Linked DNA regions of Homo sapiens. The protein of the gene in region 4 purifies or fractionates together with the protein of the main gene of each other region. This does not show direct contact. Each region holds a gene or a part of one and is shown on either strand. Other genes may lie near its edges. The genes, in order: CLPTM1, POMT1, DNAJC16, SLC6A16, PRRC2B, CALD1 and TTYH3.

Evidence for each region.
Region 1: the proteins of SLC6A16 (region 4) and CLPTM1 purify together in Homo sapiens (affinity purification with mass spectrometry; one large-scale study listed by BioGRID and IntAct). This does not show direct contact.
Region 2: the proteins of SLC6A16 (region 4) and POMT1 purify together in Homo sapiens (affinity purification with mass spectrometry; one large-scale study listed by BioGRID and IntAct). This does not show direct contact.
Region 3: the proteins of SLC6A16 (region 4) and DNAJC16 purify together in Homo sapiens (affinity purification with mass spectrometry; one large-scale study listed by BioGRID and IntAct). This does not show direct contact.
Region 5: the proteins of SLC6A16 (region 4) and PRRC2B purify together in Homo sapiens (affinity purification with mass spectrometry; one large-scale study listed by BioGRID and IntAct). This does not show direct contact.
Region 6: the proteins of SLC6A16 (region 4) and CALD1 purify together in Homo sapiens (affinity purification with mass spectrometry; one large-scale study listed by BioGRID and IntAct). This does not show direct contact.
Region 7: the proteins of SLC6A16 (region 4) and TTYH3 purify together in Homo sapiens (affinity purification with mass spectrometry; one large-scale study listed by BioGRID and IntAct). This does not show direct contact.

The regions. Positions count from the first base shown.
Region 1 is NC_000019.10:44,982,395-44,986,864, forward strand, and holds part of CLPTM1 (putative lipid scramblase CLPTM1), read left to right. Parts: intron 1-2,823; coding exon 2,824-2,909; intron 2,910-4,060; coding exon 4,061-4,181; intron 4,182-4,470. UniProt on the Homo sapiens protein: Involved in GABAergic but not glutamatergic transmission. Binds and traps GABAA receptors in the endoplasmic reticulum (ER).
Region 2 is NC_000009.12:131,505,520-131,509,989, forward strand, and holds part of POMT1 (protein O-mannosyl-transferase 1), read left to right. Parts: intron 1-594; coding exon 595-701; intron 702-883; coding exon 884-934; intron 935-1,831; coding exon of another isoform or gene 1,832-1,848; coding exon 1,849-1,995; intron 1,996-3,391; coding exon 3,392-3,503; intron 3,504-4,223; coding exon 4,224-4,289; intron 4,290-4,383; coding exon 4,384-4,470. UniProt on the Homo sapiens protein: Transfers mannosyl residues to the hydroxyl group of serine or threonine residues. Coexpression of both POMT1 and POMT2 is necessary for enzyme activity, expression of either POMT1 or POMT2 alone is insufficient.
Region 3 is NC_000001.11:15,557,249-15,561,718, reverse strand, and holds part of DNAJC16 (dnaJ homolog subfamily C member 16 isoform 1 precursor), read right to left. Parts: intron 2,194-4,470; coding exon 2,063-2,193; intron 1-2,062. UniProt on the Homo sapiens protein: Plays an important role in regulating the size of autophagosomes during the formation process.
Region 4 is NC_000019.10:49,318,477-49,322,946, forward strand, and holds part of SLC6A16 (orphan sodium- and chloride-dependent neurotransmitter transporter NTT5), read right to left. Parts: intron 1-4,470.
Region 5 is NC_000009.12:131,494,116-131,497,889, reverse strand, and holds part of PRRC2B (protein PRRC2B), read right to left. Parts: intron 3,486-3,774; coding exon 3,404-3,485; intron 2,151-3,403; coding exon 2,016-2,150; 3' UTR 1-2,015.
Region 6 is NC_000007.14:134,946,737-134,951,206, reverse strand, and holds part of CALD1 (caldesmon), read right to left. Parts: intron 3,700-4,470; coding exon 3,438-3,699; intron 834-3,437; coding exon 693-833; intron 1-692. UniProt on the Homo sapiens protein: Actin- and myosin-binding protein implicated in the regulation of actomyosin interactions in smooth muscle and nonmuscle cells (could act as a bridge between myosin and actin filaments).
Region 7 is NC_000007.14:2,644,869-2,649,338, reverse strand, and holds part of TTYH3 (protein tweety homolog 3), read right to left. Parts: intron 2,487-4,470; coding exon 2,317-2,486; intron 2,198-2,316; coding exon 2,086-2,197; intron 1,922-2,085; coding exon 1,701-1,921; intron 1,381-1,700; coding exon 1,285-1,380; intron 1-1,284. UniProt on the Homo sapiens protein: Calcium-independent, swelling-dependent volume-regulated anion channel (VRAC-swell) which plays a pivotal role in the process of regulatory volume decrease (RVD) in the brain through the efflux of anions like chloride and organic osmolytes like glutamate.

The DNA.
Region 1 (4,470 bases), 4.3 Mb from region 4:
TGGTTTGGACCAGCCATATTTGCAGTGCCCAGTAGCTGCATGTGGCCAGCAACCCTGATACTGGATGGTGCAGCTCTAGAAGATTTTCCTCCAAGAAAGGGGGGCTTTTTCCTCCCCACAGGAGCCAGGTCCATCTGGTCTGGATGCCTCCAAGCTGCAGAATGTGTTCTTTGCCTGAGCCAAAGCCTCTCTCCCCTGTGCCTCCCCCTCCACCAGCCAGCGCTGCCCTCTGGGGCTCTCCCTTCCCTGGACAGTCTCTGTCAGGTGTGGACACGATTGGGGCATGTCCCCCTGGAATTTTCTCCAAGTCAACCCTTGAGTGTTGGTTTCTCCCCCTGGACACAGGAGGAAGATCCCCAATGATTTAATAATCATAGAAATGATGAGGATTGGCCAGGTGGCTCAAGCCTGTAGTCCCAGCAATTTGAGAGGCCGAGGCAGGTGGATCACTTGAGGTTAGAATTTGAGACCAGCCTGGCCAACATGGTTAAACTCCGTCTCTACTAAAAATACAAAAATTGCTGGTCATGGTGGTGGATGCCTGTAATCCCGGCTACTCGGGAGGCTGAGGCAGGAGAATTGCTTGAACCTAGGAGGCAGAGGTTACAGTGAGCTGAAGTCATGCCACTGCTCTCTAGCCTGGGCAACAGAGTGAGACTCCATCTCAAAAAAAAAAAAAAAATGAGGATGACGTTTCTGCTAATAAGCAGTAGGCCCTGGGCCAAGAAGTGGTGAGGCTTTTCTTCCTTCTTTAGGGAAGTGACATCACTCACCAGCATCCCTTAGCTTGTAGGATTCAGAGCCAAGATTGCCCCCAGAGCCCCCGCTGTTGGCCAGGTCTCTTTCCCCTTTCCCTGTCTCTCCCTGGCCCCAGGGGACAGGATAGAGACTTGAGGGAGGGCAGACTGAGTTTTCCTTCATAGCATAAGGAAGAGCTGAAAAGTCCCCGGGCTCAGTGGCTCACGCCTGTCATCCCAGCACTTTGGGAGACTGAGGTGGGCAGATCACGAGGCCAGGAGATTGAGACCAGCCTGGGCAACATGGTGACACCCTGTCTCTACTAAAAATACAAAATTAGCCGGGCGTGGTGGTACACGCCTGTAGTCCCAGCTACCCAGGAGGCTGAGGTGGGAGAATAGCTGGAACCTGGGAGTCGGAGGTTGCAGTGAGCCAAGATCACACCACTGCACTGCAGCTTGGATGACAGAGCGAGACTCTGTCTCAAAAAAAAAAAAAAAAAAAAAAAAAAAAGAAAAGAAAAAAGAAAAATACTTAGCTTCTTTTCGGGCCAGGTGCGGCAGCTCACACCTGTAATCCCAGCACTTTGGGAGGCCAAGGTGGGCAGATCACGAGATCAGGAGATTGAGACAATCCTGGCTAACACAGTGAAACCCTGTCTTTACTAAAAATACAAAAAATTAGCAGAGCCTGGTGGCACACGCCTGTAATCCCAGCTACTTGAGAGGCTGAGGCAGGAGAATTGCTTGAACCCAGGAGGCGGAGGTTGCAGTGAGCCGAGATTGTGCCACTGCACTCCAGCCTGGGTGACAGAGCGAGACTCTGTCTCCAGAAAAAAAACAGAAACGTCCCCAGGCCAGGGCAGAGGTTGGGAGATGGAGCGTGGGCACGCACAAGCCCCTTCCTCCCCGGCAGCATTTGGGACAACATGGCAGGGGGCCTGTGGCCAACTGGGCCTCTGCGAGAGGAAGTGAGGCCAACTCCTGGCTGGGGATTCACAGCCTCAAAGTGTTTCTCATCTTGGTTTCTCATGTTGGTGGCTTCAGGCCTTTTTTGGAACCGTCTGCTGCCTCTTTATAGTCATGTATTCAACTGGTCATCACCGAGCCTGTGCAGGCGCCCCATGTGTATTCAAACAGGCCCTGCCCCTACCCGCATTTCCGCACAGAGTTTGCAGACTGGTTGCAGGGACAGACAGCAGGCAGGTAAACCACTGGCTAAGTGGTTTTGGATAGTGGTGAAATGTTGTGAAGGAAACAAGCTGGCAGGAGAATGACTGCATAGGCTCATTCAGTGGGGTGGCCAGGGAAGCCCTGTGGAAGAAGGACATTCTGCCAGGGACTTGAATGCCACGGAGGAGCCAGGCCACGAAGATTGTGTCAGGGCATGGGTTCCTGGGACACGGGGCAGCACGCCTGAAGGCCCCGGGTTGGCATGTTTGAGAAGTGGAAGGTGGTGAGGGTTGAGAGGTCACCGGGGCTACGGTGAGTGTCTGGGGTTCCAAAGCTGCGGGATGCCATGATCAGTCACTTGTTTTTATTTATTTGTTTGTTTGTTTTCTTTTTCTTTTTGAAACGGAGTTTCGCTCTTGTTGCCCAGGCTGGAGTGCAACAGTGCGATCTCAGCTTCCTGTAACCTCCACCTCCCTAGTTCAAGCGATTCTCCTGCCTCAGCCTTCCGAGTAGCTGGGATTACAGGCACCCGCCACCACATCCGGCTGATTTTTGTATTTTTATTAGAGACGGGGGGTTTCACCATGCTGGCCAGGCTGGTCTCTAACTCCTGACCTCAGGGGATCTGCCCGCCCCAGCCTCCCAAAGTGCTGGGATTACAGTGCCCTACTGAGCTGGGGTTTCTGCCTGGGGCATTTGGTGATGGTGGCGTCCCCATGATCATGAGGAACTGGGATTCGTTGAGATTTGGGGAGGCAGTTCTGGCATTCCAGGTCACATTGATCTCAGCAGGTGAGTGCAAGGTGGATGCCAGGAGACCGTGAGCCGTTGCTGGTGGGCAGGGGTCCGGGCTCTGGAGGCTGCAGGTGCCAGCAGGTCTCACGTCCCCTCCTTTCCCACCTCCCAACCACAGTGATCAACAAATACAAGCGCAGACGATTTCAGAAAACCAAGAACCTGCTGACAGGAGAGACAGAAGCGGACCCAGAAATGATCAAGGTAAATGGGCAGGGTTGTCAGGGCCTATAGGGACCAAGCCAGGCCATTCACAGCTCATCCCAGACCACTGGGGCTGTCATCTGTCACCACCACTGAACCACCATGCCGGCTCGGTCATGCCACCTCCCCTCCCTGAGCACTGGGCTCCTCCTCTGGGAAATGGGGTCAGGAGGCAGCTGTCTCTCAGGGAGTGAGGAGGATCCCAGACAAGGTTACCTGAGCCTCTTGCCAGCCTGGGAGGGGTCTACATCACAGTCCCATTGTCACATGAGGACACTTGCTCAGTCTCAGCCGGAAGTGGCAGGCCAGGGACTCTCACCCACACAGCCAGGCCCCAGAGCCCAAGCTCAGCCTGGCTCCAAGCACACACACGAGAATATGGCTTTAGTAGGAACTGCAGGATTCATAGTTGCTGTCACTCCCAGTGGGCTGGGGAGCCGGGCAGTTAATCTGTGGTTAACCTGCAGTGGGCACTAAGAGACTTCCTCTCTCTGCGGGTGGTCCTGTGTTGGGGGGGTGGTCCCTGCTCATGGAGCTGAGGCCACCGTGCAAGAGTGTGTGGAGCCTGCTGTCATGAGGCTGGGCTTCGCAGCCTGGCCTAGGATGCCAGCCCTGCCTCTACCTCTACCTCGGTTTTCTACATGTGGGGTGGGAGGATCCTGTCGGTGGCCGGAAGGGTCCTGGGTGGCGGAATCTCTAAGCCTAGGGAGGAGAGCCTTCTGCCAGCAGTTGCTGTGGTGGCTGATATTCTGCTGCCAGGGTTGTCAGGGGAGATGGCTCATGCCTGTTTTCCCAGCATTTTGGGAGGCCGAAGCAGAAGGATCACTTGAGCCCGGAAGTTCAAGATCAGCCCAGGCAGCATAGTGAGACCCCATCTCTTCCAAAAAAGAGAAAAAAGAAAGAAAGAAAAGAAGCTGTCCATGGTGGCTCACGCCTCTAATCCCAGCACTTTGGGAGGCCGAGGTGGGAGGATCGTGCTTGAGCCCAGAATTCGAGACCAGCTTGGGCAGCATAGTGAGACCCCATCTCAGAAAAAAAAGAAAGCAAAGATTAAGATTTTCTCGGGAACCCTGGGGAGGAAGTGTACAGAGAGTGATAGTCCCCGAGCACTTCCACCTGCCTCTGAGGTCCTTCCCCCCATGTTGCCTCAGAGGGCTGAGGACTATGGGCCTGTGGAGGTGATCTCCCATTGGCACCCCAACATCACCATCAACATCGTGGACGACCACACGCCGTGGGTGAAGGGCAGTGTGCCCCCTCCCCTGGATCAATGTAAGCTCCCCAGCCCTGCCAGCTGCCTGCAGAGCCTTTGAGAGGGTGCTCGGGGTCCATCTCCTTGTCTTCTCCTGGCCCTGTCCCCCTGAGAGAGCTTTCCAGGGCTCCACCCTCCCAAGCTCCCACCCTGTCCTATCCCCTTCCCATGTCCTCTCCCTCTCCCACACCACCACCCCTGGGGACCCCAGGACTGACTTCTACACGCCAGCATCGGTCCGCAATCAAGTGCCATCCAGCCCACAAACTGTTTTCAAAAAATGTCTTATCACTTGCCAGCTTTTGAAAT
Region 2 (4,470 bases), on a different chromosome or scaffold from region 4:
CAAAGTGCTGGGATTACAGGCGTGAGCCACCGTGCCTGGCTGAGGATTCTTAAAAACAAAAATCACATAACCACAGTTGCATTATCATGCCTGAGAAATTGACAGCAGTTTCTTGGTTATCTTCACCTCTCCCTGATTGAAAACATGTTATTGCAGTTGATTCCCACGTTTTCCTTTCATACTTGCAGCCGTTTCATTGGGTCATCGCTAGCCACAGACATGTGCTGCTGGTGGGGGCGGGGGTGGGGGGGTTGGGTAGGTGGGTAAGCAGGATTAGCCTTGCGTCCCAGGAGGTCTTTCAGCAGGTTGGCTCATAGTATCCACCTAAATCAAACACAAGGGAGAGACAGAATCTGTATGGGCAGGCATGCTGAGTGCCAGCTGTGCTTGGTGAATTCCCCATGTCTCTGTGGGTGGGTGATGCTGTATGCATCTTAATATTTGGGGATGGGAAACAATTGGGGCAAAAGATCCAGCCTTTGCTGATCACTCACTCAAAGTCATTTGGAAACACATACACATTTATCCTCACAGTTTTTGTTTACAGTTAAGATTCTAATTGAATATAATATGGGTTGTTGTTTTTTTTTCTAGTTTTGACGAAGTATATTATGGGCAGTACATCTCTTTTTACATGAAACAAATCTTCTTCTTGGATGACAGTGGGCCGCCATTTGGCCACATGGTGCTGGCCTTGGGAGGTAGGAGTCATCAGGAGAGTAGCCCCTACCCTTCAGGACCTCAAATACATTTAAAACTTATCAGTGCATTTCTTACAGGCAGAAACCAGGTCTTATTATTGATGCATCTTGTTTATTGCTTGCCACAGTACTCTAGAAATATTTGCTGAATGGGATAGTTACTGATTAATCTTCTGTTTCAGGTTATTTAGGAGGATTCGATGGCAATTTTTTGTGGAACAGAATTGGAGCAGGTAAAAGATAATTTTCATTTCCCTTTTAATGTGCGCAGGTTAGAATGAAGAGATTGTGACTTTTGTAAGGATTAACAACTGTGGCTTTTTTTTTCCTTTCATACCTAGTCCCACAGAAACTGTGCCTTATTAATCTGAGTCCAGAAAATAATAAATTGGTTGGATACAAATGAAAGACTTCTGGAAAGTCTGGTTAAAATCTTACTGTTCAGTTGCAGTCATTATTTCAGCCCTTGTCGTTGGTACACGTATCACAGAGCGTCTGATTGTGATGATCGGTTGTACATGTGAATTTTGTCCATTGCCACAATGTTTTTGAAAATAGGGAGGGTAGGCCGGGCGCGCTGGCTCACGCCTGTAATCCTGGCACTTTGGGAGGCTGAGACGGGTGGATCATGAGGTCAGGAGATCGAGACCATTATGGCTAACATGGTGAAACCCCGTCTCTACTAAAAATACAAAAATTAGCCGGGCGTGGTGGCGGGCGCCTGTAGTCCCAGCAACTCGGGAGGCTGAGGCAGGAGAAGGGCGTGAACCCGGGAGGCGGAGCTTGCAGTGAGATGAGATGGCGCCACTGCACTCCGGCCTGGGGGACAGAGCAAGACTCCGTCTCAGAGAAAAAAAAAAAAAGAAAAAAGAAAACAGGGAGGGTAAATATGTATAAGTAAGGCGGTAAATTTTAGAATCCTTAGTCCTGTCTATGCTTCATGAGATCGGGTTCCATGACTATGCAAAGCTAATTTCAAAGCCTTCACCCATAGTTTATGCACTCTGCTGCTGATGGGGTCCCCAGTTTTGTAAACGTGCATTTTAGAGTCTGTGAACATGACGGCGCTATGTGAAAGCATAGCTGCAGTACACAGAGATGGTGTGTGCACAGTGTAGTCAGCTCTGCAGTGTGGTTGCTTTTCCAGAATACAGTAGCAACGTGCCTGTGTGGTCCCTGCGCCTGCTGCCAGCACTCGCGGGGGCCTTGTCGGTCCCCATGGCCTACCAGATAGTGTTGGAGCTCCACTTTTCTCATTGTGCCGCCATGGGAGCTGCTCTGTTGATGCTTATCGGTAAGACCTGCGCCCCTGCCTGCTCTTGCTGTCATGCAGGGAAGAACTGACCCTTTGGCCCGGAAGATCACATGGGCTTGGTGGGCGAGCTGCACCAGAAAGTGCATCTGGTTCATCCAAATTTGACGCTGCAAGTCACCCGCTCCCAGGCTGACCCCGTGGTTATGGGATTGCTGAATTGTGGGATCAGACTCTTATCAGCAGTCGGGGTATGGCAGTAGAAAACTGCCCAGATGCTGCTGCAAAGTCCATGCACACGTGGGCACCTCCATCTCCAACCAATCTTGTGACCAAATGATAACTTCCCCTTGTTCCACCACCTCCCAGGCCTTGGCCAATTGAGATGGACTCGTGAGTCAGTGGATCCTCTTCAGAGAGGGTCTTCCAGCTCACGTTTATGAACAGATGAAATTAAAGCAGATGAAAAGTTAGATTAGGCTGGGCGCAGTGGCTCACACCTATAATCCCAGCACTTTGGAAGGCTGAGGCGGGCAGATCACGAGGTCAGGAGTTTGAGACCAGCCTGGCCAACATGGTGAAACCCTGTCTAAAAATAACGAAAAATACAAAAAATTAGCTGGGTGTGGTGGCAGGTGCCTGTAATCCCAGCTACTTGGGAGGCTGAGGCAGGAGAATTGCTTGAACCTGGGAGGTGGAGGTGGCAGTGAGCCAAGACTGCGCCACTGCACTCCAGCCTGGGCAACAGAGCAAGACTCCATCTCAAAAAAAATAAATAAGCCGGGCACGGTGGCTCACACCTGTAATCCCAGCACTTTGGGAGGCTGAGGCGGGTGGATCACAAGGTCAAGAGATCGAGACCATCCGGGCCAACATGGTGAAACCCCATCTCTACTAAAAATACAAAAATTAGCTGGGCATGGTGGCACCCACCTTTTGTCCCAGCTACTCAGGAGGCTGAGGCAGGAGAATCGCTTGAACCCGGGAGGCGGAGGTTGCAGTGAGCCGAGATTGTACCACTGCACTCCAGCCTGGTGACAGAACAAGACTCTGTCTCAAAAAAATAAATAAATAAAATTAGCCAGGTGTGGTGGCATGCGCCTATAGTCCCAGCTACTCAGGAGCCTGAGGCAGGAGGATCCCTTGAGCCCTGGTGGTCAAAGCTGCAGTGAGCCATGATGGTGCCACTGCACTCCAGCCTGGGCGACAGAGCAAGACCCTGACTCAAAGAAAAGAAAGAGACAGTAGAAAATCAAAAGAGATGTGTATTGGGTGATGACTGTATGAGGCCTTGTGTCTATAGAATGTTTTAACATTCACAACAGCCCCACACAGTTGTATCGCTTCTGAAGTAATGCCTTTTTTCATGAGTGTTTTTCATCCTCATACGTTTTCCCTTGCTACCTTAAAATTGACATGTGTTTCCTCTTTGAAACAGAGAATGCTCTCATCACTCAGTCAAGGCTAATGCTTTTGGAATCAGTGTTAATATTTTTCAATCTATTGGCCGTGTTGTCCTACCTGAAGTTCTTCAACTGCCAAAAGCACAGGTATGGAAAATGGAGTGTCTTCCTAGTTAACGAGAACAGAGATTCTGGGTGGTTTGTTGATCTGAGATGGTCCAGTACCTTTTTTTGTTTCGTTTTGTGAGACAGTACCTTTTCATTTTGAGGAGTTGCTTGCTAAATATCTTTTTTTTTGAGACGGAGTCCCTGTCACCCAGGCTGGAGTGTAATGGCGCAATCTCGGCTCACTGCAACCTCCGCTTCCCAGGTTCAAGCAATTCTCCAGCCTCAGTCTCCCGAGTAGCTGAGATTACAGGCACACAGCACCATGTCTGGCTAATTTTAGTATTTTTAGTGGAGACGGGGTTTCACCATATTGGCCAGGCTGGTCTCAAACTCCTGACCTCAGGTGATCTACCCGTCTTGGCCTCCCAAAGTGTGGGGATTACAGGTGTGAGCCTCTGCGCCTAGTGCTAGATATCTTTTGGTCCTCTAATATTTTGGGGGTTGGCCCTTGGCTTGTGACTTCATAAATACATCTTCATTTTTCTATAATTTAAACTAACAGGACAACATTTTCTGGGCAAAAAGAAAAATTCTGCTGGGATGGATACTTTGGGAGATGGGAATTCTTTCTTACTGCCCCTGTGGCTCAGCATGGCCAGCCGACCCAGAAAGATTTCTCTGAAGAATGTGGAGCTTCACTAGCCTTTTGGAAATGTGTCTGAACTATTTCTGTCTCCATCTGCTTTGTTTTTATTCCAGCCCTTTTTCTCTGAGCTGGTGGTTCTGGCTAACACTGACAGGGGTCGCTTGTTCCTGTGCAGTGGGGTGAGTTTGAGCCTCTGGTCTTGGGCAGTGTCCTCCTCCATCTCCTTATGTTTTCCTGTCTCATGTTAACTCCATTTCTGTCATGTCTTTGCAGCATCAAGTACATGGGTGTGTTCACGTACGTGCTCGTGCTGGGTGTTGCAGCTGTCCATGCCTGGCACCTGCTTGGAGACCAGACTTT
Region 3 (4,470 bases), on a different chromosome or scaffold from region 4:
TCTGATGCAGCAGGGCCTTTCATTTTATTTTTTGAGATGGAGTCTTGCTCTGTCGCCCAGGCTGGAGAGTGTAGTGGTGTGATCTCGGCTCACTGTAACTCCGCCTCCTGAGTTCAAACCATTCTCCTGCCTCAGCCTCCCAAGTAGCTGGGATTATAGGCGTGCACCACCTCACCCAACTAGTTTTTGTATTTTTAGTAGAGACGGGTTTTCACTATGTTGGCCAGGCTGGTCTCAAACTCCTGACCTCAAGTGATCCGCCTGCCTCAGCCCCCCAAAGTGCTGGGATTATAGGCGTGAGCCACTGTTCCTGGCCGGCAGGGCCTTTTAGAAACTATTTGTCCTAGTTCTTCCAGTATAGGGAGGGCTGGTCAAATCTCTCTCAGGCCAGAGGCCACTGAGCCTCATTCTGAACGGCTTCCTTTGCAAGGTTCCAATGGAAAGTTTAGCTATTCATTCTCCCAAAAATATTTACTGAGCACTTAGTATATGTCAGGTAATATAGACAATATTATTGCCCTCATGGAGCTTATATTCCAGTGGGGAAGACAGAAAACAGATATATTATGACAGGTATCAACAAGTGCTATATATTAAAAAAAAAAAAAAAGATGAAAAGGGGACAGAGAGAGGCCAGAGTGGGTAGAAGCCAGGCTCCATCAGACAGGTTGGTCAGGGAAGTGCCAACTGAAAAGGTGACATTGTTATGACAGGAAATGGGGTCAGAGCATCCCAGGTAGAGAGACTACAAGTGCAAAGACCCCAGGATGGGGAGTGACTGGATCTGATTTGCATTTTCAAACATTATTGGCTGACGTGTGGACATCTGCCTGGAGGGTACAAGAGTGGAATGGAGCAGAGAGACTAGTTAGAAGGCTGCCAGGGGGGTCTCGCTGGGAGACGATGGTGGCTTGTTCCAGGGTGGCAGTGGTTAAAAAAAGTGAGAAGTGTGTGGATTTGGGATATTTTTTGAAGGCTGTGTAAACAACAATCCTTACAGTCCAGGATATTCTTTTTTTATATTTAAGTCATTTTTTTCTTCGCTCTTAAGACTATAAAGGAATCTGAAAAGCCTAGACACACAGGGAAATTATGTTTTATATTTTCAAGTTACATGATTGATATGTTTTCCTTCCATATCCAGATACCTTTTACAGATGAAACAGCCCTAAATTTAAAGCTACTGATTCATTCACCTGAGAAGGTGTAATGAATACATTCCCTGAATTTCTAGACTTTTTAGATACTTTGTATAATAACTCTTCCTACTTTATTGAATACATGTAACTTAGCCTTCCCGATTCCCACCAATCCATTTCCTCAATACTCTGTACTTCCCTACTGTTTAATTGTTATCCTTGCTCCTTCCCAAGACCTCCAAAGACTCACCCTGTGTGGAATGCTTTAGTAGGGACAGTCACTCTTCCATATTCTGTGCTTCTGTAAAGTGACCCAGTCTATCCCAGACGCCTGGCTAAACTGTGCTCATCCTTCAGGTCTCAGCTGAAATGTTACATCTTAGGGAAATCTTCTCTGACCACTAGGACAGGCTGGCACATCTGACAATTTGGTGCTAAAGTGCCCTGGACTAATACATCATATTAGTATGATTACCATCACAGTCACTAATCAGTGTTTTTTTTTTTTTTTTTTTTGAGACAGAGTTTCACTCTTGTTGCCCAGGCTGGAGTGCAATGGCATGATCTCGGCTCACCGCAACCTCTGCCTCCCAGGTTCAAGTGATTCTCCTGCCTCAGCCTCCCTAGTAGCTGGGATTACAGGCATAAGCCACCATGCCCGGCTAATTTTGTATTTTTAGTAGAGATGGGGTTTCTCCATGTTGGTCAGGCTGGTCTTGAACTCCGGACCTCAGATGATCCGCCCTCCTCGGCCTCCCAAAGTGCTGGGATTACAGGCATGAGCCACCATGCCCGGCCCAGTATTTGTTAAATGAAGAATAAGTTCTCAATGTTACAGGGCAGATGTCTAGTCACCCTATAGTAAAATGAATCATGATCCTTCTATTGTAATAACAAGCAGAGGCAAAGCCTTAAGTCCTTACTTCCTCTGTCGATGCGACCGTTTCACAGGGCAGAGTTCATGGAACAACTTCTGGCTGGTGAGCCTGGCTGCCAATAGATATTTGTTTCGGGTGATGAAGTCGTCAATGATTTGCTTCTTCATACCTCGGGCCTAGAGAAAAACCAAGAATCAGCTAGATTTTATGCAGTGTTCTCAATGCAAATAGATGGGCTTTCTTTACTTACCAGCTTAATAAAAACGTAGCTGACCTTGGCTAAAGTAATATAACCAAACAAGACAGACCTGTTTGAGCGAATAAACATGTGGTGATCTATTTCAGCAATGCAGGGCTGAAAGCAATGATGCAGCTATTTCGGGTCAAAGGGAAAATCAAGTACACTTTCCACTGGAGAATTTTTATTCACTGTTTTATGCTGACAAATTAAAAAAGTCAGTCATGGCCGGACGTGGTGGCTCACATCTGAAATCCTAGAACTTTGGGAGGCTGAGGTGGGTAGATCACGAGGTCAGGAGTTTGAGACCAGCCTGGCCAACATAGTGAAACCCCGTCTCTGCTAAAAATACAGAAATTAGCCAGGCATGGTGACGTGTGTCTGTAGTCCCAGCTACTTGGAAGGCTGAGGCAAGAGAATCAGTTGAACCTGGGAGACGGAGGTTGCAGTGAGCCGAGATCACGCCACTGCACTTTAGCCTGGGCGACAGAGCGAGACTCCATCTCAAAAACAAAACAAAACCAAACACAAAACAAAACAAAAACCCAAAACGAAAAGTCAATCATTTTGAATTTTAGGCAAAATTATTTCCATTCAGGATTTGTAGCGAACTGGGCAATTAAAAATAAATCCCAAAGCAACAATGTTGCAAAGTATAAAAGGCAGGTTACAAAACCGTGTGACCATTTTATTGCTAACTTTCACACATTTCAAAGGATTGAAATCATTGACAGCAGGTATTCTGACCACAAGGTAATTAACCTAGAATTCCATTTAAAATGCAAACCAGAAATGTAAACATTTCCCTTTATGTTTGGAAATTAAGAAACACGGCCAGGTATGGAGGCTCATTCCTCTAACCCAAATGCTTTGGGAGGCCAAGGCAAGAGGATCCCTTGAACCCAAGAGTTAGAGACCAGCCTGTGCAACATGGAGAGATCCCATCTCTACAAAAAATTAAAAACAAACAAACAAAAGGCCAGGCACAGTGGCTCACTCCTATAATCCCCGAACTTTGGGAGGCCGAAGCAGGAGGATTGCTTGAGCTTAGAAGATCGAGACCAGCCTGGGCAACATAATGAGATCTTGTCTCTACTAAAAATAAAAAAACATTAGCCAGGCATGATGGTGGTGCATGCCTGCAATCCCAGCTACCTGGGAGGTGGAGGTGGGAGGACTGCTTGAGCCCAAGACTTAAGAGACTGCAGTGAGCTAGGATCACACCACTGGACTCTAGCCTGTGTGACAGACTGAGACCCTGTCTCAAGAAAAAAAAAAAAAAAAAAAAAAAAGGGCTGGGTATGGTGGCTCATGCCTGTAATCCCAGCACTTTGGGAAGTCAAGGCAGGTGGATCACTTGAGGTCAGGAGTTCAAGACCAGCCTGTGCAACATAGTGAAACCCTGTCTCTACTAAAAGTACAAAAATTAGCCAGGCGTGGCCTTAGTCCCAGCTACTCAGGAGGCTGAGGCAGGAGGACTGCTTGAGGCTGGGAGAGCATACCAGCCTGGGCAACGGGAGTGAAACCCTGTCTCATAAAAGAAAAAAAAGGAAAAAAAAAGTTGTTAGCTGGGCATGGTGGCATGTGCCTGTAGTCCCAGCTACTTGGGAGGTTGAAGGGTGAGGATCACTTGAGCATAGGAGGCCAAGGCTGCAGTGAGCCATGATGACATCACTACACTCCAGCCTGGGTGACAGAGCAAGACTGACTAAAAAAGAAAAAAAAAAAACCAAAACAAGAACGCCTATCAGATATTAGAAAATATTTTGAACTTTAATGACTGATGAAAAATACTATTTATAAGAACTCTGAGATACATATAAAGTAGTACTTGAAGGGGAATTTTACAATTAACATAATAGAAAAGAAGTTAATGAAATAAACATCTGTCAAGTCAAAAACAGCAAAAATATAAAAGTAGAAAGGAAATAATACAGATAAAAATAGAAATTAATGAAACAAGAAATGAATATATTAATATAAGAAGAAGAATTAACAAAGACAAAACTGGTTCTTTGAAAAAGCTAATACAATCGACAAGCCTCTGGTAAAACCAACCATGAAAACAAAAGAGAAGGCATAAAATAATCATTCTCAAAGATGACAAGAAGGAATCACTACCTACAATGCAGAAGTTAAAACAGAAAACCTAAATAATCAGTAGTCAAAAATCTTTCCTTAAAGCGAAACCCAGAAACCCAAGCTCAAGGCCCAA
Region 4 (4,470 bases):
GAACAACAAAAAATTCATAATGTCAACCATCTAGTCAAAAATTACTAGACATGCAAAAAAGCAGGAAAAGTGACCCATAATCAGACAACAAAAACAGAAATGATAGACTAATGGAATTAACACACCATAACACTAAAATAGCTGTTACAAATATGCTTAATATGGTCAAGGACTTAAAAGGAAAACATGAACAGAATGAGGAATATAAGATAGCTAGATAGCTAGCTAGCTAGACAGACAGATAGATATTTTCTCTTTTGAGACAGAGTCTCACTCTGTTGCCCACACTGATCTCAGCTCACTGCAGCCTCTGCCTCCAAGTTTCAAGCAATTCTCCTTCCTCAGCCTCCCAAGTAGCTGGAATTACAGGTGTGCACCACCACAACTGGCTATTTTTTTTTTTTTTTTTTTTTTTTAGTAGAGACAGGGTTTTGCCATGTTGGCCAGGCTGGTCTCGAACTCCTGATCTCATGTGATCCAGCTACCATGGCCTCCCAAAGTGCTGGGATTACAGGCATGAGCCTCCATGCCTAGCCATGATATATTTTAAACATCAAATAGAACTTCTAGAGATGATACAACACCTGAAATGAAAATTTCACTGAAGATTACTGGCAGATTTTAATAAATCAGTGAACTTAAAGATATAGCAATAGAAACAATCCAAAATGAAGCACAAAGAAAAAAAAAAGACTGAAAACAATTACCAGAGCATTAGTGACTGTGAGACAATATCAAATGGCCTAAAATGTGTAACTGGAGGTCCAAAATAAAGGGAGGATGGGAAAATGAAACCAGGCCAATTTTCCAACAAGCCAGATGCCCATAGAACTGAAGCTTGAGAAACTTACATTTGTACAATGAGATGAACCTGCTGTATGTTGACCAAGTACTCTTCTTTACTCCTCCCTAATTCCTTCATATATGTGTGTGTGTATATATATATATTTGTATATACATATAAATACATATACATATACATATGTGTATATGTGTATATGTATATACATATACTTATACATATATGTGTATATGTGTATATGTATATACATATACCTATACGATATATACATATACATATATATATCAAGAAAAGACTCACATAATTGAAAGGATAAAAGGACAGTTCTACAATAATAACTGGAGACTTTAATACCCCACTACGAACAATGGACAGAAGCAGCAGACAGAAGATAAGCAAGGAAATAGAGGACTTAACACAATAAACCAACCAGATCTAACAGATGTATTCAGAACACTCTAGCCAACAGCAGCAGAATACACATTCTTCTCAAGTGCACATGGGACATTTTCCAGGAGAGACCACAAATTTGTAGGCCACAAATTTCCTTTTTTTCTCAATAGAATTAGAATGATAAATATCATACAAAATATCTTCTCCAGCCACAATAGGATGAAGTTAGAAATGAATCACAAAAGTAAAATTGAAAATTTTACAAATTTGTAGAAATTAAACAACACACTCTTAAACAACCAATGGATCAAAGAATAAACTACAAGGGGAGTTAGAAAATACTTACAGATAAATGAAAACGAAAACACACATACTAAAATTTATGGGAGGCAACAAAAGCAATGCCAAGGGGGAAATTTATAACTATCAATGGTTACATTAAAAAACAAAAAAGAGGCCGGATGCAGTGGCTCACGCCTGTAATCCCAGCACTTTGGGAGGCTGAGGTGGGTGGATCATTTGAGGTCAGGAGTTCAAGACCAGCTTGACCTACATAGTGAAACCCCATCTCTATTAAAATACAAAAATTAGCTAGGCATGGTGGTGGGCGCCTGTAATCCCAGCTACTCAGGAGGCTGAGGCAGGAGAATCGCTTGAACCTAGGAGGCGGAGGTTGCAGTGAGCCGAGATCACACCACTGCACTCCAGCCTGGGCAACAGAGCAAGACTCCCTCTAAAAACAAACAAACAAACAAACAAAAAAAAACCAGATCTTGAATCAATAACCTAACTCTAAAACTTAAGAAACTAGAAAAGCAAACTAAACCCAAAGCTAGCAGAAGAAAATAATAAAAATTAAAGCAGAAATGAATAGAGAATAGAAAAACAATAGAGAAGCCAAAAGTTGTTTCTTTAAAAATATCAACAAAATTGACAAACCTTTAACTAGATGTACTAAGAAAAAAAGAGAAGACTCAAATGATTAAAACCAGAAATGAAAATGGGGACATTATTACCAATTCTACAGAAATAGAAGGATTATAAGAGAGTACTATGAACTTATGAACAACTGTACACCAATAAACTGGATAACCTAGATTAAATGGACAAATTCCTAGAAATACAAATCTACTAAGACTAAATCACAAACAGAAAATCTGAATAGATCTATAACTAGTAAGGAGATTGAATTGGTAATCAAAAATCTCTCAACAAAGAAAAGCTCTGGACCTGATGGCTTCATGGGTGAATTCTACTAAACCTTTAATGAATTAATATCAATCCTTCTCAAACTTTTCCAAAAAATTGGAGAGGAGGGAACACTTCCTCATTCATCCTATAAGGCCAACATTGCCCTAATACCAGAGCCATACAAAGACATTATAAGAAAAGAACACTACAGACCTATATTCATTATGAACTTTGATGCAAAAATCCTCAAAAAAAATACTACCAAACCTAATTCAGCAGCATATTAAAAGGATTATATACCATGACCAAGTGGGATTTATTCCTGGAATGCAAGGATGGTTCTGCATACAAAAATCAATCAATATAATATACCACATTAACAAAATGAAAGAAAAATAATGATTCTCTCAACTGATGCAGAAAAAACATTTGACAAAACTCAATACCCTTTCATGATAAAAAAAAAAAAAAAAACTCAACAATCTAGGAGTTAAAGGAAAATACGGCTGGGCATGGTGACTCATGCCTGTAATCCCAACACTTTGGGAGGCCTGATGACCACTTGAACCCAGGAGTTCAAGACCAGCCTGGGGCCAGGTGCAGTGGCTCACATCTGTAATCCCAGCACTTTGGGAGGCCAAGGCGGGTGGATCACCTGAGGTCAGGAGTTCAAGACCAGCCTGGCTAACATGGTGAAACCTGATCTCTACTAAAAATACAAAAATTAGTCAGATGTGGTGGTGTGCACCTGTAGTCCCAGCTACTTGGGAGGCTAAGGCTGGAGAATCGCTTGAACCTGGGAGGCAGAGGTTGCAGTGAGCCAAGATCATACCACTGCACTCCAGCCTGGGTGACAGAGCAAGACTCCATCTCAAAAACAAACAAACAAACAAACAAACAAAATTTTTAATTACCTGGGTGTGTTGATGTACTTCTGTAGTCCTAGCTACTCATGAGGCTGAGATGGGAGAATCACTTCAGCCCAGGAGGTCAACGCTACAGTGAGCCATGATGACACCACTACACTCCAGCCTGGGTCACAAAGTGACACCATGTCTCAGCAAAAAAAAAAAAAGGAAAATATCCCAACATAATAGCCATATACGAAAAACTCACAGCAAATGTCATACTTAATGATAAAAGACTGTAAGCTTTTCCTCTAAGATTAGAAACAAGCGTAGAATGTCTAATTTTGCCACTTTTATTCAACATAGTACTGGAAGTCCTAGCCAGAGAAATTAGGCAAAAATATAAATAAATAAAAGGAAACCAAACTAGAAAGATTATATGATCTTATACGTAGAAAATCCTAAAATTTTCACCAAAAAAATTTTTGAGCTAATAAATGAATTCAGCAAAGTAGCAGGATACAAAGTCAACAATCAAAACTCAGTTGCATTTTTATACACTAACAATGAACAATCTGAAAAGAAAATTATGAAAACAATTCCATTTGTAATAGCATCAGAAAGAATAAAATACTTAAGAATTAACTTGGCTGGGCACGGTGGCTCAAGCCTGTAATCCCAGCACTTTGGGAGGCCAAAGTGGGCAGATCACCTGAGGTCAGGAGTTCGAGACCAGCCTGACGAACATGGAGAAAACCCGTTTCCATTACCAAGTTACCCAGGCATGGTGGCACATGCCTGTAATCCCAGCTACTCAGGAGGCTGAGGCAGGAGAATCACTTGAACCTGGGAGGCAGAGGTTGCAGTGAGCCGAGATTGCACCATTGCACTCCAACCTGGGCAACAAGAGTGAAACTCCATCTCAAAAAAAAAAAAAAAAAGAATTAACCAAGAAGGTGAAAGACATGTACAAAGAAAACTACAAAACATTGCTGAAAAAAATTAAAGGAGACATAAATAAATGGAAAAATATCCCATGTTCATGGGTTGGAAGACAACACTGTTAAGATGTCAGTATTACCCAAAGCAATCTACAGAATTAGTAGCTTTTTTTTTTTTTTTTTTTTTTTTTTTTTTTTTTTTTTTTTTTTTGCAGAAATAGAAAAACACGTCCTAAAACTAACATGAAATCTCAAGGGACCCTGAACAGCCAAAATAATCTTGAAAAAGAAGAAA
Region 5 (3,774 bases), on a different chromosome or scaffold from region 4:
ACAAGCAGCCGCTTGCAGTGGGAGAAGGAAAAGCAGACAAGAAGCTCAGGTAGGGAATGCCTGGAACTGTCGGGTGGGCAGCCCCTGGGGAAGGGACTCAAGCATAAAGGCTTGGGATAAAGAGGGAAAAGACCAGGTGAGGGCAGGAGGGGAGCTGCTGAAAGATGCAGGTGAACAGTAAAGCACCTTTCAGTAAAACTGCCCTTTCCCAGGCAGCTCTGGGGTGGGCGCTGTTGGTAGGAGGCCGTTCTCCCGCTTCCTTAGAATTGTGAGAGCAGTAAGAAGTTACTTCAGCAGTTCCTAAGATGCTCCTTCCCCATGTTCTACACTAGACACAGAGCTTAGAGCCCAAGCCTGAGCGCTGTCCTGCACCCGTGAGACGCTGAAGGCAGCCTCTGGTGGGGGGTGCATCCCCGGCCCCCTCCTCTAGGTGTTCTGAGCCAGCCTCCTCTGGAGGAGGAGGTAGACGCTCAGTGACCCCTAAGAACAGCTGAGAAACCTGAACTGTCCCCTTCCCTTTCCTTGGAATGACAGAATCTGGAGTGATTTCCTTGTTTCTTACTTAAAAACAAGCCCAGCACACGATGGCTCACACAAGCCTCTGGCTGGAGAAGCTGCCCTCCCGGAGGCTGCGCAGGCCCTTTGGACCTTGGTCAGCCCTCCACCCAGCCTCACCCTGGACCTGCCCCCGCCGTCTGAAGACAAACGAGACTGATGCCTACTGCTTAGCTCAGGCCCTCCTGTCCTGACAACCTGGGTCTGCTGCTGGGAGTGAAGCAAAGGAGGAAAAGGACAAACTCCCAGTGGCCTCACTTGGGGACCACACACGGGTCCACTCCCTCCATCACCAAGTGGTGTTCACGATGAGCTGTGTGGGAGGTGGAGACAGGTCCAGAGAAAGCAGCAGGCTCCGGAAGAGGAAGGAAGGAAAATGACAGGTTACAGAAGGCTTCAGGGAAAGAAATGTGTGAAAAACACAGCACCCCTGCAGGGCAGGGTATGGAGCCCCAGAAGCAGAGCCCACGGGGCCTGGGATGGGCCTGTGGTATGTCAGCTCACCCCATCTGGGCCAACCTGGGAGCCACCAGCAGCCATCTCCATGATTTGTCTCTGGTGCCCAGCACATCCACTGGCTTTAGAGGAGCCCAGGACAGGGACCCTGTGTGATTCTCATGCTAAAACTGTCATCAACTTCATGGGCTGCCTGTAAGCGCCCTGGGCTCATCAAGCCAGGAGCTGGAACCCAACTATGACCCCCCCCCTCCCCCAACCTGCCTGCTGCTCTGAGCACCCCATCGCTTCCCAGGCGGGGAGCCAGGCACCAGAATGCTCGCAATCGGTGCCCTCAAGAACCTCCTTTTCTTTTTGCAAATAACCTCAAGGGTGAACCAGCTGAGGAATCAGGAGGGGATGCATTCTTAAGAGTCACCTCTTAAGGTACTGCAGTGACGTATCAAACTAAACAGGACAGAGGCTAGAGATGGAAGGGAGCGGAGGGGCTGGCAAGAAACATATAAAAGTTCAGCTATACACATGGAGCTTGCGTTTTTGTTTTCTTTTCCTTTCCCCTTTGTAAAAACCTTGGCTACATTTTAAAACAAAAAGCCTCAAAGTAAAATGACCCTGCTGCCAAATCACTGTGCCTAGGGATGGGCGGCTGGGCCGGAAGCACTGCTGAGAAGGCGCCCTGGCTGCGCGGCAGGACAGGGAGGAGGCAGGGAGGGCAAATCTGCACTGCACAGGAGGCGTCACTCCACAGTCACGGTAGGAGCAGATGGGATGAAGGAGTCGTCTGCTTTTTTGTTTCGTATCAAAGCAAGCGGGTCAATGCCATATATCCACGGGTGCAAGCTGGTTGACAACGGAGCTTTCGGGAGTGGAGAGGAGGGAGGTCTCTCAGTCTGGGCCACGCATTTGGACGGTGGATCTGGTGAGGCTCCCGAGTGTCGGCTGTGTCGAGGCCGCATGGCGGCACCGTCCTCAGTAGGGAGAGGCGAGGTGGCAGCCAGGCACTGTCAGGCCTTACTCTCCTCCACTTTGACAGCCCGAGGCTTGATCGCTCCGGTTCGCTTCATCTGGGAGGCAGCCGAGGGGGCCTCCTGCAGCTTCACGGCTCCCAGGCTGGGTTTCTCATCCACTCGTTGTTTTGCCTTTGGACAGATGAATGGGAAAAACAAAGTGACCCTGACGCTGAAACGTGTTTGGATACATAGTTCCCACCACTCCCTTCCTGCTCCTGAGTTGCAGGGAAAGCTCCCCTAAGTTGTCAGTCCCTTGGTTGAAGGACCAGACTTAGAAACCCCCCTCCTAGTAAGGAAAGTGGCGCGAGTGCCGTCTCTGCTCCCTCCCCATAAGCCCTGAGTGCAGTGATTCGGAGAGGCAGGAAGACACCGGGTCCTCCACAAAGAATTCCGCGATGGCACATCCCAGGGCGGAAGCAGTTCTGGTCCCAAGGCCAACTGGAAGAACCTTTTCAAATCAGTGCACCTCCTGCCCCACAGGCAAAAAAGGCCCCTTCAAGTAGATCCAAGTGCCCCCTGCACGTCTCGGAGCCCCCGACTGTCTGCTGGGGCCCTAGGCAGACTTGGCCCCCACAGATCTCTGGCCGCGATTCAGCCAACCCCCCCACCATTCCCACTCTGTAACCTTTCCCTGGGGCCCCATTCCTAGTCAGGGCTCCCCTGGTCTGTGGCTCTACACGGGGAGTGGGGTGGGGAAGTCACAGAGCAGCCAGCGCATCTGCCCCCCACCAGGTCTGAACTCTGGAAGAAAGCTTTAGAAGCTCATTCCACACAACTTTCATGACCCCTAGGGGAACCAATGAGAGCAATCACTTCCCATCTCTACCAGCCAGGCACAGTGACTGATTAAAAACCCACGTCTGAGGGGCTTAAGCTCTGAGCCCCAGCACGTTTTAGAGAATAGAGAAGAGAATAGTGCGTGCAGGAAAAGACACTGCGATGTCCTTTTCATTATAAAATGGGAAAACTTAATTTCACCTGTGCTCCCACCCAGCCAAGACAAAGATGAGACACACCACTGACTAGAACCAGCGCGCGCACCCCGGCTCCTAAAGCCGACCCCCAAACCTAACCGAGTCTCCCAGGGCGCCTCAGCCCCGACCTGCCAGGGCTGGTCCACCTTCCAGCACCACCTCCTCAGAGGAATCAGCATCCTCCCTTCTCTGCAGGACAAGGAAGGATCCAGACGCCCGTCAAGAGGAGAAATGCCTTCGCCAGGAGGGACGCGGGCGGCCCAGCTCCCGGTTCTGTGCTCTAACCGCTAGGGCATGGCTGTCTTTAGACAGGGGGCGCTCAGATAGGTTGGACAGTCCCTTCTCTTTTGGCGCTTGGAGACGGGCCTAAGTGTCCAGGGCTGAAGGGTCTGGAAAGCCATCTTCTACCTGTTGCACGTAGTGTCCCTGCACAGAGCCCATGTTAACTGCTGATCCAGAGGGCTTCCCACTGGGGCTAGCAGAGCTAGGCCTGAAAAAACCAAAGGCAGGGGTTGAGAATACACAACGTGTCACCACAGAAATGGAGTCAAAGCCTAGCACATGGAGGAGGCACAAGGAAGGAAGGGCCTGCGGCCAGAGGCGCTCACTCGGGACGGTCCGTGGATCTCTTGGATGGAAAACAACCACAGACCTAAGACAGCCCAGAACGCAGAAGGGTGAGGGGGTGGCTGTCACTGACCACCCTGGCACCTCCAGGACAGAGCTCAAGGAGACGCACCGCAAGAGAGGGAGGCTGAGGCCCTGTACAGATGGGCATG
Region 6 (4,470 bases), on a different chromosome or scaffold from region 4:
ATGTGTTGGTATTAAGAGGTGAGACCTTTGGGTGGTAACTAGGTGATGAGGGTGAGGCCCTTGTGAATGGGACTAGTGCCCTTATAAAAGAGGCCTAAGGAAGCCTGTTTTCTCCCTTTCTCCTTCCACCATGTAAGGACACAGGGAGAAGGTGCCACCTATGAGGAATAGGCCCTCACTAGACACCACATCTGCTGGCACCTTGATCTTTGACTTTCCAGCCTCCAAAACTGTGAGTGATAAATTTTGAGATGGAATCTTGCTCTGTTGCCCAGGCTAGAGTGCAGTGGCATTATCTTAGCTCACTGCAACCTCTGCCTCCTGGGTTCAAGTGATTCTCCTGCCTAAGCCTCCCAAGTAGCTGAGATTATTACAGGTGTGTGCCACCACGTCCGGCTAGTTTTTGAATTTTTGGTAGAGATGGGGTTTCACCACGGTGGCCAGGCTGGTCTCGAACTCCTGACCTCAGGTGATCTGCCCACATCTGCCTCCCAAAGTGCTGGGATTACAGGCATGAGCCACCGTGCCTGGCCCCAGTCTAAAGTATTTTGTTATAGCAGCCTGAACAGATTAACTTGGAAGGATAGCAAAAAGATAAATGAACAAAGGCCCTGTATAATCAATAACTAAACAAGGGGCTAAAATCCAGTCTCTATCATATTCTAATAGAAGTTTTCTGGGGAAAAAAATACCTTGAGAGATGAACCTTTAGGAGTGAAACACTTGAATGGTTTCTTGTCATCTGACAAGCCATCTTCTGGCATCTTCTGGCGTTTCTCAGCAGCTTCTGCTCTTCGCCTTTCAATCTCTTCCTTTAGCCTCCTCTTCTCTTCCTAAGAGAGAAAGAACAAATAACGAGGCATCAGTACCAGCTTCACAGCCAAAGGGAAGAGTGCTGTAGGAGAGAGAGCACAGTTGGAGAGGCAGCAGACTCAGGCCGCAGGCTGGACACTCCCCTTCTAGGTGGTCACCAGAGGTTTAGCCTGAGAGCTGGAGTCGAGCTGCCTGCATTTGCATTCTGGTGCTGCTACTTTCCAACTGCCTGACCTTGGCCATGTTATTTATCTGCTCTGTGGCTCAGTTTCTTCATCTGTAAAACAGGGATAACAATAGTACTCATTTTTTAGGGCTTTCGTGAGGGCTCAGTGAGATAGCACATGTAAAATGCTTACACCAAACTTGTCCAACCCATGGCCCAGGGGCCACATCATGCCCAGGATGGCTTTGAATGTAGCCTAACACAAATTCGTAAACTTTCTTAAAACATTATGAGACCTTTTTGTGATTTTTTTTTTTTTTGGCTCATCAGCGATCATTAGTGTTAGTGTATTTTATGTGTGGCCCAAGGCAATTCTTCTTCCAATGTGACCCAGGGAAGCCAAAAGATTGGACACCCCTGGCTTAGACTAACACTCATTATGATGATTTCCCATAGGATGATACATAATCACCACCATCCTGTGGGTCATTAACAATGACCTCACACTTCTGTATATGTAAAAGGGATATGAATATTCCTTCTACCTACATCCTAGGAGAGTTGTGAAGACAAATGAATAACTTATGTGAAAAGCTATCTAAATCTGTGGTACTATATTTGCCAGATGGTACAAGAGGTGATTTTATGGTTGCTCCCCGCTTCAAGTGAATATATAATTTTAGATGGTTTGACAAACCTGAAATGCTCTAGACGTTGAACCATGGTAGTGCAATTGCAAATGTTTACAGACTGTCTCATTAACCCCTCTGTGTCTTCATTCCTAGTCTAGAATACTCTGTCTTCTCTATCAGGGCTCTGATCAAGTTGCACAACTTGATTTTCTGAGAGATTTAATGCAGTCTTTGGTAGTTCTTAAGCTGTGAGATCATTATCACTGCATGTTCTCAAGCAGAGACTAGATGTTCATCTGTCAGAGGATGTCACAGAAGGATCCTGTGTTTGGTAGTTTAGCCCAAATAATCTCCTAGGTCCAATCCAGTTCTAAGACTTCGTGATTTCTCTTCAGCCTTTCCTGATACTCTCCTCCTCTGAATAATAATCATAATAACAATGATGGCAATAATGATACCTACTAATTTTTGAGTGCCTAGAATGTGCCAGGCACTGGGAGCACAATGATCTATTAAATTATTGGAAGAATCCTGCAAAGTAGATATTATTTCACAGATAAGGAAAAGAAGACACAGAGTAGTCCAGTTTTCCCAAGGCCCCAGCTTGTTAGTGACAGAGTTAGGATAGAAGACTGGGTGTGTTCCGAGATTGCACCACTGCATTCCTGCACTCCAGCCTGGGTGACAGAGCAAGACTATGTCTAAAAAAACAATAAAAAAAAAAAAGCCTGGGGTGTGTTTAACCCCCAAACTCTATCATCCTGATTACTTCCCATACTTCCCAACCAAAGGTCATTGGCTCATTGAAAGTTGGAGTTAAAAGAGACCTCAAAATAATGTATCCAAATTTTCCATACAGTTCAGGAAAATTTTGCATAGGATCCTTGTCAAAATGCCATTGAAAGTCTTTTTTTTTCTTCATATTTTGAATGATGGGAGATCGCTATCTCAAAAGCTCTGGGCTCTGAGTTGGAAAAGCGGGGTCTCCTTACTGATTCTACCATTTATTAGTCAAGAATCTTCAAATAAGTCACTCAAACTATTTGATTCCTGGTTTCTTTGCCCATAAAATGAGAACGATGTACCTCAGGATGAAATGAAAGAATGCACTTTGTAAACTGTAGTACTGTAAGTTGTAGTTGGTTAAACATTATTTCATATGCTGAGCCAAAATGTTCCTCCTTGTAACTCTATCTGCTGTTTTTAGCTCTGTCTTAAAAGATGAAACAAATCCATCTGTTTATAATGATGGGGCTCTTCCTGCATGTCAGGCACGGTATGGGGTCCTGGGTATACAGTAATGAACAACGCAGATACTGTCCCTGCCTCTTTATATTCTAATGTACTTACTTGCTCATTAAAAAAAAAAAAAGATTTAAAAAAATCTTCTCTATAAAAACTCTCCAACTATTAGAAAACCATAACTTCATTCTGGTAACTAATTTGCAGACCTTTCATCCTTTTCAGCTTTCTAACTTTTCCTTTTTGAGAGGCAGTAAAGGGTTTTAATGATGGGGCTCCTCCTGCATGTCAGGCAGACTCAAGGGAGACCTTGGGAAAGTTACAAACAAAAACAAAAACAAAAACAAAACCTCTCTGTGCCTCAGTTTTCTCATCTGTAAAATGGGGATTAGTACCTAGGTCAGCGAGTTCTTAGAAGCAGTGGACAAATTAATACATCTACAAGTTATAAAACAGTACCTAGCACATGGTAAGTTTATTATTCTTAAAAAAATATTTTTGAGAGCCCATGCTCAAAAGAACAGCCGCACGGCACTAGGGAATTTTCCCGGGCAACGTTCTCAGTGGGCTAGCGCCCGCCTTACCTCCTCTCTGAGTTTTCGATCGGCTTCCTCCTGCTTCCTCCTCTGCTCTTCCTCCTCCAGGACCTTCCTTCTCTCCTCCCTCTTTTTCTTGAGTTCCTCCAGCTCCAAAGCCGCCTCCTGCTGCTTCTGTTTGAGCTTCTCGAACTCTTCGCTCTCGGTCTCCCCGCGACGACGACGAAGCTCCTCCAGCCTTTTGCCGGCTTCCACCTGGGGGGCGCCCTCAGCCTCCTTGGTGTCCACGCTGGCCCTCCCTCCAGGGCGGCTGTGGTTGGGGGGCAATGGAAAGGGGTTTACATGCTTTTGCCTGTAGTCTCCCTGGAGGAAGGGGAGGTCGGTCTGCGGCTTCTGCATCCCCGACTAAATACCCACTGCCTCTCATTAGCCCAGGGGGTAGGCTGGGGAAGGGGTCTGCCCGGAATCACAGAGTCCAGGAGCCTCTGCTCTTCCACTTGTGCTTCGTTTCCTCAGCTGTAAAATGGGACAAATATGCACTGTAAAATGGGATTGTAAAGTTGTGCAGCTGCTATGGAAACAGTATGGAGGTTCCTCAAAAAATCAACAAGAGAACTACCACGTGATCCAGCAATCCCACTTCTGATACACTTCTAAAAGAATGGAAAGCAAGGTCTTGAAGAGACATTTGTATACCCGTGTTCATAGCAGCATTATTTACAAGGACCAAGAGATGGACGCAACCCAAGTGTCCATCATAGCAGGAATGGATAAATAAAAGGTGGTCTAGCCATACCATGGAATATTATTCAGCCTTAAAAAGGAAGGAGAGGCCGGGTGCAGTGGCTCACGCCTGTAATCCTAGCACTTTGGGAGGCCGAGGCGGGCGGATTGCCTGAGCTCAGGAGTTTAAGACAGCCTGGGCAACACAGTGAAACCCTGTCTCTACTAAAATACAAAAAAAAAAAAATTAGCCGGGCGTGGCGGCGTGTGCCTGTGGTCCCAGCTACTCTGGAGGCTGAGGCAGGAGAATTGCTTGAGCCCAGGAGGCAGGGGTTGCAGTGAGCCGAGATTGTGCCAC
Region 7 (4,470 bases), on a different chromosome or scaffold from region 4:
CTGGAGGGCCACGTGGCTCTTGGGGCCCCGCCCCTCCTGTCCCCCAGGTCCCTCTCCTGAACAGGCAACAGTGTCCACTTTCACGTGGGTCCCCGCATCCCGCCGCCCACGTAGCAGCCCAAGGGGCCTGATAACGTCAGCTAGATCAAGCCCTCCTGTGCTGAACCCTCGCTCAGCAACTGGGGACTCAGAGCTCTTGCTACGGCACTGGCCTCTCCCTCATCTGAGGCCTCACCTCACCCACATCTGGCTCCCTTTGATCCAGATACACAGGCCTCCTGTGCATACCCCACTGCAGGTGCCCCCACCACGAGTCCCCCATATCCCAGTTCAGATCCCCAAAACACACCCCAGTGCAGGCCCCACACCCCACTGCGGGCCCCACACCCCACTGCGGGCCCCACACCCCACTGCGGGCCCCACACCCCACTGCAGGCCTGCACACCCCACTGAGGACCCCACAACCCACTGCACACTGTCATCCTTCCTGTCTGTCCAGGCGTCCCTTACTCCCTTGGGCCCCTGCTCAATCCCTCCTCGCTCAGGTCTCCTTGGGCACAGCGTGAAGCTGCACCCCCCCCCACCACCCTACTGCAGGCCTTCACACCACCCCGGCTTTTCCTCTCCAGGGTGCTATCACCTCTGGCCCATGCCACGTTTCCCTCATTCTGCTCCTCTGTGGCCTGTGAGTGCCACGTGGGGGGAGGCTGTGTGTTCTCCCATCTCTCCCAGGCCTGGCCCAGGGAGGCACCAGCCATGGCTGTGCAGCTGCGTGGTGAAGGGCAGTGACAACACCTTACCTCCCACAGAGGAGCTGCCGCTCTCTCTGCCTTCCAAACGAGGAGACCAAGGCCCAGCAACAATAAGCCACCTGCCCAAGGTCACCCTCCTAGTGAGCCGGAGCTGGGGCTGGAACCCAGGCTGCCCCAGGGCCAAGGATGGAAGGGGTGGAGGAAGGAGCCCCAGCCTGGTCTCTGGGTGGCCCCAGGCACTCGGAGACCTGGGCAGGTTGCTTCAGGTCCTGGGCTACAAGTGCCCCACGTGCAGACTCTTGCAGGAAATCAAGGGCTGGGGGCAAGTGTGCTGGGATGCTGGCCACAGGGGCACAGGCCACAGGCACAGAAGGGGCATCTCAGAGCAGGCCCAGTGCAGGGGGGTCCCGCTCAGCCCCCACCGCAGAGCTTGTGGCTAGGATCTGCAGATGAGGTGGGGGAAGGGGTAACATGGTGCCTTGCCCTGCCCCTCCGCTTTGGGCCCACGGGGGGCCGACACCCCCAGACTCACCCCACCAGGATGCCCTTGGAGCTGCGGATGAGGCCAACCAGCACCAGGAGGCAGATGATGACGTCCAGCAGCAGCAGGCCCAGGTAGCCCAGCCACCTGCAGGCAAACCTGGGAGTGCGCCAGGGCACAGGGACCCGGGGCCTGGGAGTGGGGCGCCAGGGGCCCTTGAGGGGGAGCTGAGGCCAGCAGCCTGGCACCCCAGAGGGCATTCAGAGCGTCTGGGTCATGGGGACTGGTGTCAGTTCTTGAGAAAGGCTCCCATTAGGGGAACTCCAGCCACTGCCTGTGACCTCCAGTGGCCCTGGGCCACACCCTGCCCATCAGGCCTCATGTACTAGGTGCTGAGAGCAAAAATTGGCCCAAGGAGGGTGATGCTTTCCCACGTGGGGCGGGCAGGGAAGAGGGCCTGGCCGCACCTGTACCAGTCGTAGAGATCCACCTGCTCCGCCAGCACCTCCAGCGACACCGCCGTGTTCCTCCAAAAGGGGATGGCGGCCGTGTAGCCCAGCAGCGTCTCCAGCAGGCCCTGCAGCCTCTGTACGGCTCGCAGGGGCTCGGGCCGCCCGGCCAGCTGCCGCTCCAGGGTCTGCAGGCTGGGCTCCGCCGTGTGGTTCAGCCCCACCGCCGTGTCCCACACCTGCGCCGGACCCGCGGGCGTGAGGCTGGGAGCGCGCCCGCCTCGCCCCAGAGTCTGGGCCCCTCCTGCACAGCCCCAGTCCCGGCTGCCCCGCCCGTCCTCGCGCAGACGTGGGGCTCCGGAGCAGCAAGAGTGCTCCTGGCCCCAACTCCGCGGCCACTCACGCGGTCCTGGACCCCGGCCACCGTGCGGTTGGCGTGGCGGAGCGAGTAGGTGGCCCTATGGATGCCATCACTGGTCTCCCCGTTGCCGTAGAATCCCACTGCGATGCCGGCGCTGGAGAGGGCGGGCCCGTGAGATGTAGCCCCGCCCACCCACACACACCCCACTCCAGCCCCGCCCCCTCGGGCCGCCCCCTCTGGCCCCGCCCTCCGTCCCCGCCCCACCGCGCTCACCTGCACACCAGCGTGGCGATGATGACACACCAGGCCGTGCAGCAGCAGTCGGCGTCCAGGTGCTCCTCGCTCTTGCGCCGCCGGCAGCACAGCCAGAAGGAGTAGAAGAGCAGGAAGAGGAGGTCCAGGGCGAGGCAGGCCAGGGCGGCGGCCCCCAGGAGCAGCAGGGCCTGAGGGCAGGCAGGAAGCGGCGCTGGAGGGGTGGACCCCCAGCTCAGAGTCCCACGCCCCGCCCCAGCAGGGGACCTGGCGCAGACTCCCATTTAATCCTGCCCCCAGCCCTGGGAGGTGGGCCCCATCCCCGACTTGTAGGTGAGGCATGGAGTCTCCCACCACCTCAGTGATGCACCTGGGGTCACCCAGGCCTGGACCCCACACCTGGGACCCCGGTCTCGCCATCCTCAAGGCTGCACAGCATGAAGACTCCATAGCCACTAGGAGGGGCCGGGTGAACCGACTCCAGGCTTCTGTGGCTCCAGCAAGGGCACATGTCCCCTCCCCACCGGGTCCCCAGAGTCCAGGGCAGGTGCTCAGGACGTCTGCCCCACCAGGCCCCAAGGAGAGGCGCTGGATGGAGGTAGCCAGAGAATGTGGGTGACAAACGAGGACGCTGCTGGTGAGCCACCATCTTTGCAGCCACAGCCCCACTAGGGAGGTCCCTCCACCTCTCCGAGCCTGGTTTATCTTCTGTAGAAAGAAGTGCTGCTGAGCAGGGCAGGGTGGCTCACGCCTGTAATCCCAGCACTTTGGGAGGCCGAGGCGGGCGGATCACCTGAGGTCAGGAGTTTGAGACCAGCCTGGCCAACGTGGCGAAACCCCATCTCTACTAAAAGTACAAAAATTAGCCAGGCCTGGTGGCGGGTGCCTGTAATCCCAGCTACTCAGGAGGCTGAGGCAGGAGGATCACTTGAACCCGGGTGGCGGAGGTTGCAGTGAGCCGAGATTGCACCACTGCACTCCAGCCTGGGCGACAAGAGCGAGACACTGTCTAAAAAAAAAAAAAGTGCTGCTGCTCCCCCGAAGAAGCGAAGCCCTGGGGAGGGGGCTGCCGGCATCAGCTACTGTCCTCACCCCCAGCCCGAGACAGCCCCAGGACCCCAGAGCCCGTCCCCGTCTCAGGCCCAGAACTCTCCTACCTGAGTCCTGGCAGGATCCCCCACCCCAGCTGTAGTCCTGAGGTTTTCAGGTCTGGTAGGGAAATTGGGAGCCTGTGGGGGACTGAACCCCCTCTTGCTGACCATGAAAGTGTTTCTGAGGGGTGAACATGGAAGAGGCCCCATCAGGAGTCTGATCCTGTCTGGGGTCTGTGCACCGAGAAGCTGCACTCAGGGGTGGGCACCGTCCATGGCGTGCCCCCACGCTGGATGAGATGGTGGGGCTGGCCCCACACTGCTACAGGCTGCATACAGGCGCCCCATCGGACACACAGCCCTGTCTGGCTCCAAGCACGGCCTTCCAGTGTGGCTCTCCCCAGGTCTCTGAACACAAAAGACAGACCACAGAACAGACACCAGAGCTCCCCTGTCCCGAGGCCAGGCGACCCCCACAGGAAGTGGCTAATTTGATGCAACAGTGACATTTCCTCAGCACCCGCTGCGGGGAGGGAGGGTAACGTGGCCCCAGAGCTGTCCCTTCTCCTGGCACTGCATTCGATCTGCCTGGCCGAGTGCTCTCACCCCATTTCATCCACAGGGAAACTGGGCTTCATAGAAGCTACAGAGAAAGCACACAGGCCCTGCAACCCCAGGTCCCTGGATTCAGCATAGCCCTGCCCCCGGCTCAGCCCTCCAGAACCTCCACACACTTCCTGTGCCGGGGGAGGGATGGGGAGCTGATACAGGGCTGCGCCTCATCATGGGGCCAGGGACCACCTAGAGGCTAACTTGGGGGTGCCCTGGGGGGTGTCAGCAGCTGGGGCCCTCAGTGTTGTGGGGTGGCCACCAGGCACACCTGCGCTGCCCTCATTGGCACTACTGCAGAGAAACGCCTCTCTCCCCACATCTCAATGCTTCAGCAGTGTGGCCCTCTTGGGACCCCAGCCTTGGGAGCTGCTGGGGCAGATGGTCCCCTGCCTGGCCCCCCCTTGGGATGAGAGGCTCAGCCACAGTGGGCAATGGGATTGCTGCTGGATCTCCCAGGAGACGGTTGCCAGGC